Linked DNA regions of Homo sapiens. The protein of the gene in region 1 purifies or fractionates together with the protein of each later gene. This does not show direct contact. Each region holds a gene or a part of one and is shown on either strand. Other genes may lie near its edges. The genes, in order: CBX3, CHD4 and POGZ.

Region 1 (3,654 bases):
CTTTAAAACACTACTAGTAAAAGTAACCAGAATCATCCTCTCAGCAGATAGTTTTTCCCTACCTAATGATGAAAAACCATTTCACAAATTAAAAAAAAAAAGCTACTCTTACTTTCAAATGTAACAATCTCTGCATACTCACCATTTCATGAGAAACATCAATTCTCCACTGCTGTCTGTGGCACCAATTATTCTTTCAGGATCAAGACCTCTGGCAAATCCTCTTGGTTTGTCAGCCTGTTTAGAAGACATTTTTTCATACAGCAAACTCAGAGTATTAAATTGTTTTCATGGCGTATTTTAAATAAAAACATTCCAATAGTGAGATGGAAATGACTAGAGCAAGAACCCATATTTGGTAATTAAAAACATCTGATTTCCATTAACTTTACAAGCAGAAAAACCTGAGTTTGATACTCAACGTAGAATACTTAAAATTTCTGAAAACATTCAGAATAAAAAGTCAAGAAAATTACTGCGTTCAATGACACCAAAGTCAGAGTTGTGTGGGCATACAGAAAAACTAACCTCTTTATTTCTGGTAATAATAAAGTCTTGAAAGTTAATATATTTCAAATGACTTCCAGGAATTAGTCTGAATTACTGACACATTTTAAAAGCATAAACAAAACACAAACGGTAAGAAATATTAAAAATGTTAAAACTCATACCAACTATCTGTAATCATTCTAAATGATAGTAAATGTTAGAACAAACTTGTGTAACCTGTGGCCCAGGATGGCTTTGGAGGCCCAACACAAATTTGTAAACTTTCTTAAAACATTGAAACTTTCTTGCGATTTTTTTTTTTTTTTTTTTTAGCTCATCAGCTATGGTTGGTATTAAGTCTATTTTATGTGTAGCCCTCGACAATTCTCCTAATGTGGCCCAGGGCTGCCAAAAGATTGGACCCCCTGCGCTAGAAAGTACTTAATATAAACCAGTGGCTCTCAAAATGTGGTCTACGGATTCACTGGGGATTCCAGAGTCCTTTTTGGGAGGGGGTTGTGTAAGGCCCCCTTTTTTCATCTATTTGTGACTTTGGATTGTCTTCATATACCTCCACCAAAATGATCCGCCACAGCAATCAAATGTGTTTAAGTAAAATTGCCTTAAGACACATGTTGAATATCTGTAAAAATGTAAAATGCTACTCTTCTCAGCTTTTTTAGAAAAGTCATTTTAGAAATTTGTTTTAATTTCTACTGTTAGTATTGATAATTATAACCCATATAAACAAAAGCTCTCTGGGGATCCTCAATAATTTTTTTAGAGTATAAAGAGGCCCTGAGACCAAAAAAAGTTTGAGAACCAATGATATCAATAAATCCTTTATTCCTGTCAGAGTTTTACATCAATGTCACAAGCTCTGGAGTCACACTGCCTGGGTGAGAATGATGGACCTACCCCACTTACGAGCTGTGTGGCTTTGGGCAAGTTAATTAACCTCTTTGTGGTTTAGGTTAATAAAACAGAATTTTAGTATCTACTGCACAGATATTTCACAGCACATTAAAAGCAAATAATTTGGCACACAGTATAGCACATGCTAAGGACTCAATAAGTGTTGTTAAAGTTGTGCCTGATTTATTATTTAATAATTTTTTGAGACAAGGTCTTGCTCCGTTGCCTAGGCCAAAGTGCACTGGCATGATCACAGCTCACTGCACCTTGAACTCCCAGGCTCAAGCAATCCTTCTGCCTCAGCCTCCCAAGTAGCTGAGACTACAGGAGGTGTCCACCACGTCTTGCTGATTCTTTTTTTTTTCTTTGTAGAGATGGGGTCTCACTATGTTGCCCAAACTGGCCTCCAACTCCTGGGCTCAAGCGATGTTCCTGCTTTGGTTTCCCAAGGTGCTGGGATTATAGGTGCGAGCCACCGTGCCTGGCCAAAACTGCTTCTGTTGAGCATGTGATTTATTTTCAAAACCAAATTTGTAGTCAATCTCGTTTCCTCATCTGTAAAATAGTGATTATACCTATGACCTTATACAGAGTTGTCTTGAAGGTTGTACTTGGCTTCTAGTTCAAATGATCAAGTTTTAAATCATGTTTAGTGCCTGAGCCTAGAACCTAATTCAGCACCAAGATGTTTCCCCAAATTGCCACACTAGGTCAGTAGGCAAGACAAGTATAATCTGTTTTACAATCAAGGGTGTAAGTAAGAAGTTACCTGATTTGCCTGACGCCACAGAGACATAAGTAAAGCAAAGACTGGACCAAAACACATGTATAGTGAATGAACTGAATGTCTCAATTCATGCCAAGAAAAGTGTTTAACTATTATCAAAGATTACAGACTTCAAAATCAAGGTATTGTTTGGCAATACAAAGATGACATGCAAGTACTTTTCGGTGGTCAATGCCATTGATGGACTATAATCAGAAAGTTCTATTTGCGTTGTTCTTACTGTAGTGCAAAGGCTTTCGATAATCCAATCTTAGTATTGTTTGTATTTAAGATTGCTAGCCTTGGATCACAGGTAATTGGTCTGATCAGGGATCAAATCCATGAAACTAAGAAAAATTGCACTAGCACAACCTAAGTGGCATGAGCACTTACTGCACATTTACACAAAGTAGGCTAAACCACGCCCATCCTTATTGTCCTAAGTATTAAAATATTTAAAATACGATTAAGAGGCCTTTTATAAAAGTATCTGAATTTTAAAAAAGCAAGTCGTCAAAGGTGGGCTTGGTGTGGTGGTTCACGCCTGTAATCCCAGCACTCTGGGAGGCCGAGGCGGGTGGATCACCTGATGTCAGGAGTTTGAGATCAGTCTGGCCAACATGGTGAAACCCCGTCTCTACTAAATATACAAAAACCAGCTGGGTGTGGTGGTACACGCTTGTAATCCCAGCTACTCTGGAGGCGGAGGTTGCAGTGAGCCGAAACTGCACCACTACACTCCAGCCTGGGTGACAGAGGGAGACTCTGTCTCCCAGGAAAAAAAAAAAAAAAAAAAAAAAAAAAAAAAAAAGGCCAGGCGTGGTGGCTCATGCCTACAATCCCAACACTTTGGGAGGCCGAGGCGGGAGGATCATGAGGTCAGGAGTTCAAGACCAGCCTGGCCAACATGGCAAAACCCCATCTCTACTAAAAGTACCAAAATTAGCTGGGCGTGGTGGTGGGCACCTATAATCCCAGCTACTTGGGAGGCTCAGGCAGGAGAATCGCTTGAACCCAGGAGGCGGCAGTTGCAGTGACCAAGATCATGCCATTGCACTCCAGCCTGGGCGACAAGAGCAAGACTCCATCTCAAAAAAACAAACAAACAAAAAAGAAATCAAGCCATCAACCTTTTACAAAAGGACAAGCTGGTGGGCAATATTTTATACTTACAGCATCTCTTTTCTTCTTTGATTTGCTGTCATCAGATTCACTGTCAGATAAAGATTTTCTTTTTGTACCATCTTTTTCTTTGCCAGCTTTCTGAGAGTTAAGAAACGCTTCAATCAATTCTGGACAATCTAAATTTTCTTCAGGTTCCCAAGTATTGTCAGCACTGTGTTTAGTTTATTAAAAAAAAAAAAGGTGATTGAATTAAATATGATTCATCACCATTATCCAGATCTATTTTAATAGACACCCGGGGGAATAAAAAGTCCTCTGTACTGCAGATACTAATCATTTCCTCCTTCCCTACATTACCC
Region 2 (3,553 bases), on another chromosome or scaffold:
AGCTCTGAAAGTTTGAAAACAAATATATGTACATTAGGATGCAGTCAGATCAGGGAGGCCGAATCGGCAGGAGGCAGGGGAGCCACTGGCTACCTTTGTGCAGGACTGCATTGGCTGGCTTGTTTCCTGCCATTGACTCCTTGGACAGGTGCTGATGACTTTCCGCCAAACACTCCACCTCAGCAAAGCGGGTGTTGAGGGCCATGGAAGGGTGAGAAGGGTCTTCTGACATGTTCAAGTAAGCAGCCCGGCGCAGCTGTTCCTCAATCACCAGAGCTTGTTCTAAGAGCTGGACAAGGGATAAGAGGAAACGGGAGTTCGACTGATAACTCACTTTACTCACTTCTGACTGGCCTCTCAGCTCACCTCTCATTGTTTCAGATGGTAATAAGAACCTATGAAGAACTTCATGGACAGCTCATTCCCACACCCAAGTAGTTTAACTTTGCCTTGTAACTTTTTTCTTTCCCTTTTTCAATGTCCTCATTTTTAAAACTCTTTACCCTTTAGGTTCTCTTATACAAAAGCGATAAAAACTCAATTTAGAAAATAGAATATCAAAAATTTTTAACAACAGATAATCCCACCTTCTAGAAATACATCCTGATATTTTTCTTTTTAGGTTTTTTTGTGCATAGTTTTTTACATAACTGAGATCATACTATATACATACCCATATTATGTTTTCATTTAGTTACACAGTTAAGCATCTTCCTTTTTATCATCTACTCTTTATCAACTACTCTTCAAAAACATGTTTTGGCTGGGCACGGTGGCTCACACCTGTAATCCCAGCACTTTGGGAGGCTGAGGCGGGCAGATTACTTGAGGTCAGGAGTTCAAGACCAGCCTGGCCAACATGACAAAACCCCGTCTCTACTAAAAACACAAAAATTAGCCAGGTATGGTAGTGCGCACCTGTAACTGCAGCTACTCAAGAGGTTGAGGCAGAAGAATGCTTGAACCCGGGAGGCAAAGGTTGCAGTGAGCCAGGATCGCGCCACTACACTCCAGCCTGAGTGACAGAGGGAAACTGTCTCAAAAAAAAAGGGGTTATTTTGCTATTTAAAAATATTTTTGTTTTTTATTTCCTCTTATCGCCATCTCACTCCCATTCCTCTGAAAAGCAACTTTTCTAATGTAGTAATACTGTGGCTTTTTGTGTAGGTTTTTAAAAACTGTTTCTGTTTCCTATGTATGTTTCTAAGTTACAGAATGATGTTTTCTGTATCTATAAAATGCTTTTTCTTCTCCCACTACATACCTTTTAAAAGGTACTCTTATGTTGTATGCACATGAATTTTGTTGCTTCTGTTGTTTAATGCCCCATGATATGAATACATGTTTCACCTATGCATTCTCCTAATGCTGAACATTTATGTTGCCTCTAGGCCCCCACCACCAAAAATCATACTGCAAAAACACTCATGCACATGTCATCTGATGGAGCTGTATTAAAGATTCTTTGAAATATATCCCAAGAGGCAGAATGTTGGTTCTTAATTTATGAAAAGATTTTAATTACTTAAAAAATATATTCATAAAACATATGACTCAACATAAGAGAAGATTTCTCATACCCTTCTCCTCTCCTAGTGTCAGCCAGCAGTTCTATGCAGATGATTTGATGCTTCTCAAACATGTACCTTCAGCACTGGTTCTGATCCCACTAGTGTATGGTGATGGGGGTCGGTAGTGGGAGGGGTGCTGATTTGTGAGAAATACCAAAAGACTTGTCTAAAATTCGATATCATTCTTTTCTACAAACTGCTCCCTCTCTTCTTAAATGACAATTTAACTTTCTCAGTGACTCAGGCTCAAAATGTTATTTTCAGTCTCACTCATTCTGTACCTCAAATCCAGTAAGTCAGGAGTTGGCAAGCTACAGCCTGTGGGCCAGATCTGCCCCACCACCTGTTTTTATATGGCTCAAGAGCTAAGAATGGGTTTTACATTTTAAAATGGTTGGCAAAAAGTCAAAACAAGACTATTTCATGCCACTTCATGAGAATTATACAAAATTCAAATTGTAATATCCATAGATGAAACGCTGAAACACATCCTAACTTATTCATTTATGTATCCCCTGTGGCTGCTTTCACACAACAAAGATGGAGTTGAGTATATGCAACAGAGACTACATGTCCCACAAAGGGACTATCTGGCCCTTTAATAGAAAAGGTGTGGTTGGGTGCAGTGGCTCACACTTGTAATCCCAGCACTTTGGGAGGACAAGGCGGGCAGATCACCTGAGGTCCAGAATTTGAGACCAGCCTGGCCAATATGGCAAAACCCCATCTCTACTAAAAATACAAAAATTAGTCAGGCATGGTGGTACATGCCTGTAATCCCACCTACTTAGGAGGCTGAGGCAGGAGAATCGGTTGAAGCCAGGAGGCAGAGGGTGCAGTGAGCCAGGAAATGTCGCCACTGCACTCCAGCCTGGGCAACTGAGTAAGACTTTGTCTCAAAAAAAAAAAAAAAAAAAGGGTTTTATTAACCGTTTTTGGTTTGGGGGGAGAAAAAAAGGTTTGCTGACCCCTACAGTAAGTCACTAAGTCCAATAAATTCTTTGGTGTTGTTTCCTTTATCTTTACCCTTTTCATTTTCCACAACCAGCATCACAGCCCAGACCCTTAACACCTCATGATTATATGACAGTTTTATAATCTTATGAATGCTGTTTCCATTTCCCTTGGTCCTATCAAAACTCTGCTCACAAACTTTCAGTGGCTGCCCATTAACGATAGCGTAAAGTCCAAACTCTCTTATCTGGTGCCAAGAACCCACCTACTGACCTCTAGCCCGTCCACCTTTCTCGTTCCAACCTACCTCCCACCATCACCCAACACAAATGTTTCCCTACAGCTCAACTGGGCTATCTGCTATTTCCAGACATACTAAGCTTTGCTGGCTCACATCTTTGCCCAACCTAATCCCTTTGTTCAGATACCCTTCTGTTTCTACCAAAAAAATCTCCGTCGCATTCTTCAAAACTTCATTCCAATGCCATCTTCTCCATAAAGCCATTTGTGAGTTCCGTCCCTACTCCAATTCCCTCTCGAGAACTTTTTTTTTTTTTTAAGACAGGGTCTTGGATGGGCACAGTGGCTCACGCCTGTTATCTCAGCACTTTGGGAGTCCGAGGCGGGCAGAACATGAGGTCAAGAGATCGAGACCATCCTGGCCAACATGCTGAAACCCTGTCTCTACTAAAAATACAAAAATTAGCTGGGCGTGGTGGCACACGCCTGTTGTCCCAGCTACTCGGGAGGCTGAGGCAGGAAAATCGCTTGAACCCGGGAGGCAGAGGTTGCAGTGAGCAGAGATCTTGCCACTGCACTCCAGCCTGGCAACACATCAAGACACTGTCTCAGGAAAAAACAAAACAAAACAGGGTCTCACTCCAATGCCTAGGCTGGAGTGCAATGGCACAATCTAGGCTCATTGCAGCCTCCTAAGTAGCTGGAACTACAGGTGCACGCCACCAGAACTGGCTAATTTTTGTATTTTTTGTAGACATGGGGTTTTGCCATGTTGCCCGAGCTAGTCT
Region 3 (3,654 bases), on another chromosome or scaffold:
CTACAATGCATAGGATAGCCTGGAGATTATCCGACCCTAAATGTCAATAGTGCCAAGACTGAAAATCACTGATCAAACTGAATACATGTTCTGAAAACGAGGGCAATTAAAAAAAAATCATCCCACATTCTATACATAAAGAACTATCATTTCTTTTTAAAAATATTTGTCCTCTCAGGCCAGGCACAGTGGCTCACGCCTGTAATCCCAGCACTTTGGGAGGCCGAGGTGGGCGGATCACGAGGTCAGGAGATCAAGACCATCCTGGCTAACACGGTGAAACCCCGTCTCTATTAAAAATACAAAAAATTAGCCAGGCGTGGTGGCGGCCGCCTGTAATCCCAGCTACTCGGGAGGCTGGGGCAGGAGAATGGCATGAACCTGGGAGATGCAGCTTGCAGACTGCACCACTGCACTCCAGCCTGGGAGACAGTGCGAGACTCCGTCTCAAAAACTCTGCAAGAGAGCAGAACAAGGTTCTTATGAATTATTCAAATGGTTATATCTTGTATGTTAAAAATTTTTTTATAAAATCCATATATATCTAGTCTGTTTCATCCTATAATCACCTACCTGTGAAACTTGATTTTTTTTTTTTTTTTTTTTTTTTTTGAGACGGAGTCTTGCTCTGTCACCCAGGCTGCAGCGCAGAGGCACGATCTCGGCTCACTGCAACCTCCGCCTACCGGGTACAAGTAATTCTCCTGTTTCAGTCTCCCAAGTAGCTGGGACTACAGGTGCCCACCACCACGGCTGGCTAGTTTTTGTATTTTTAGTAGAGATGGGTTTTCACCATATTGGCCAGGCTGGTCTTGAACTCCTGACCTCAGGTGATCCACCTGCCTTGGCCTCCCCAAAGTGCTGGGATTACAAGTATGAGCCACAGCACCCAGCCAGGAACTTGATTTTATCTTCATATTCATCTGACAACTTTTAGGTCACAGGGTCTTTGTCGCCTGGGCTGTAGTGCAGTGGCGCGATCTCAACTCACTGCAGCCTCGACCTCTTGGGCTCAAGCAATCCTCCCGTCTCAGCCTCCCAAGTAGCTGGGACTACAGGCATGTGCTACCACGCCTGGTTAATTTTTGTATTTTCTATAAAGCTAGAGTTTTGCCATATTGCCCAGGCTGGTCTTGAACTTCAGGACTCAAGTGATCTGCTTGCCTTGGTCTCCCAAAGTGCTGGGTTTTACAGGCATGAGCAGTCGTGCCCAGCCTCCCCAGTTCTAAATTTTTTCTTGTTGTGGCCCCTTTACAATTCCTCTACAGGTTACTTTTGCTACATATAAACTCTTCTAGCTTCTTCAACTTTCAAATCATTTTTGCAGAGGGCAATGCCTCAAAGTGACAAAATGGAAACCTATTTCTATGTTCTTCCTCAAAAATCTTATTTATGGTTGAACTTAAAAGTTACAGTAGCTCTGTATCTCAAAAGCCAAAGGTTATGATTGTAATATGTTTAAATAGAAAAACCTTAGCCAGGACCGGTGCAGTGGCTCACGCCTGTAATCCCAGCACTTTGGGAGGCCGAGGTGGGTGGATCACTTGAGGTCAGGAGTTCAAAACCAGCCTGGCCATGACCATGACCAGAGATGTGGTGAAACCCCGTCTCTACTAAAAAAAAAAAATACAAAAATTAGCCAGGTGTGGTGGCACACGCCTGTAATCCCAGCTATTCAGGAGGCTGAGACAGGAGACTGCCTCAAAGGGAAAGAAAAAAGAAAAACATTAACCAATAAACTACTGACTAATAATTCACATTAGTTATCAGCTGTTTTGTCTATGGCATTTTTTTGCAAACAAATACACAAGAAAAGCCAAAAACAATGTATGAAGTATTACTGACAATAATATTTAACCTGAATCAAATCAATTATTTATTTATTTTATTTTTTTTTAAATTTTTTGAGATGGAGTTTCACTCTTGTTGCCCAGGCTGGAGCCCAATGGCGCGATCTCAGCTCACTGCAACCTTCACCTCCTGGGTGCAAGCGATTCTCTTGCTTCAGCCTCTCAAGGAGCTGTAATTACAGGCATGCGTTACCATGCCTGGCTCATTTTGTACTTTTAGTAGAGATGGGGTTTCATCATGTTGGTCAGGCTGGTCTTCAACTCCTGACCTCAGGTGATCCACCCGCCTCAGTCTCCCAAAGTGCTGGGATTACAGGTGTGAGGCACCGCGCCTGGCCCAAATCCATTATTTAAATGTAACTTTGCGTTTACAAGAAATACAGCAATAAAAGAACAAATTAAGTATCACCACAAAGAAATAATGAGATAAATCCAGAAGGTGGGACATTCTAGAAGGAAATAATCAAATGCAGAATATGGAACATTCTATAAAACTAATAGAAGTCTCTTTAAAAATGTCAATGTTCGGCTGGACGCGGTGGCTCACGCCTGTAATCCCAGCACTTTGGGAGGCCAAGGCAGGTGGATCACCTCAGATCAGGAGTTCGAGACCAGCCTGACCAATATGATGAAACCCAGTCTCTACTAAAAATACAAAAATTAGCCGGGCGTGGTGGTGGGCACCTGTAATCCCAGCTACTCAGGAGGCTGAGACAGGAGAATTGCTTGAACCCGGGAGGTGGAGGTTGCAGTGAGCCGAGATGGTGCAATTGCACTCCAGCCTGGGCAACAAGAGCAAGACTCCGTCTCAAAAAAAAAAAAAAAAAAAAAAAAAGTCAATGTTGGCCGGGCATGGTGGCAGGCCAAGGTGGTAGGATTGCTTAAGGTCAGGAGTTCAAGACCAATCTGGGAAACAGAACCGATCCCTCTAAAAAATTTTTAAACAGAAAGGATAATCATATTATATTCATGTAGGAGAATGTATTTATTCCTAGGAAATGCACAAAATATTTAATAGAAATATCTTGAAAGTGACTTTCAAGGGGTTAAGCAAATACATAGATATTTGGCTTTTTTTTTTGAGACAGGGTGTCATTCTATCCCCCAGGCTGGAGTGCAGTGGCACAATCACGGCTTATTGCAGCCTCAACCTCCTGGGCTCAGGTGATCCTCCTGCCTCAGCCTCCCAAGTAGTTGTCACTACAGGTGGGCTATTTTGATATTTTCTTATAGATACTAGTATGCCAACTTTCAAAAAATATTTGGCATGGGCCAAAACATTAAAAATCATCCTGTCACCAGGCGCAGTGGCTCACGCCTGTAATCCCAGCACTTTGGGAGGCCAATGCAGGCGGATCACAAGGACAGGAGTTCGAGACCAGCCTGGCCAACACAGTGAAACCCCGTCTCTACTAAAAATACAAAAATTAGCCATGCGTGGTGGCTGGTGCCTGCAGTCCCAGCTACTCGGAAGGCTGAGGCAGGATAATCGCTTGAATTCGGGAGGCAGAGGTTGCAGTGAGCCAAGATTGTGCCACTGCACTCTAGTCTAGGCAACAGAGCGAGACTCTGTCTTAAAAAAAAAAAGTCACTCTGTCTAGGTGGTGGATAGTTTAAGTGTTCCTTGTAGAATTCTTTCACCCTTTTCTTTTTTCTTCTTTTTGTGATGGAGTCTCGCTCAGTTGCCCAGGCTGGAGTGATCTTGGCTCACTGCAACCTCCACCTCCCAGGTTCAAGTGATTTTCCTGCCTCAGCCTCCTGAGTAGCTGGGATTACATGCATGCGCCACAACGCCCAGCTAATT

What was found.
Region 2: the proteins of CBX3 (region 1) and CHD4 purify together in Homo sapiens (affinity purification with mass spectrometry; 6 studies listed by BioGRID and IntAct, with this or other methods). This does not show direct contact.
Region 3: the proteins of CBX3 (region 1) and POGZ purify together in Homo sapiens (affinity purification with mass spectrometry; 7 studies listed by BioGRID and IntAct, with this or other methods). This does not show direct contact.

What each region holds. Positions count from the first base shown.
Region 1 is NC_000007.14:26,208,245-26,211,898, reverse strand, and holds part of CBX3 (chromobox protein homolog 3), read right to left. Parts: intron 3,507-3,654; coding exon 3,344-3,506; intron 238-3,343; coding exon 143-237; intron 1-142.
Region 2 is NC_000012.12:6,572,981-6,576,533, forward strand, and holds part of CHD4 (chromodomain-helicase-DNA-binding protein 4), read right to left. Parts: intron 290-3,553; coding exon 94-289; coding exon of another isoform or gene 91-93; intron 1-90. UniProt on the Homo sapiens protein: ATP-dependent chromatin-remodeling factor that binds and distorts nucleosomal DNA. Acts as a component of the histone deacetylase NuRD complex which participates in the remodeling of chromatin.
Region 3 is NC_000001.11:151,449,438-151,453,091, forward strand, and holds part of POGZ (pogo transposable element with ZNF domain), read right to left. Parts: intron 1,512-3,654; exon of another isoform or gene 1,473-1,511; intron 1-1,472. UniProt on the Homo sapiens protein: Plays a role in mitotic cell cycle progression and is involved in kinetochore assembly and mitotic sister chromatid cohesion.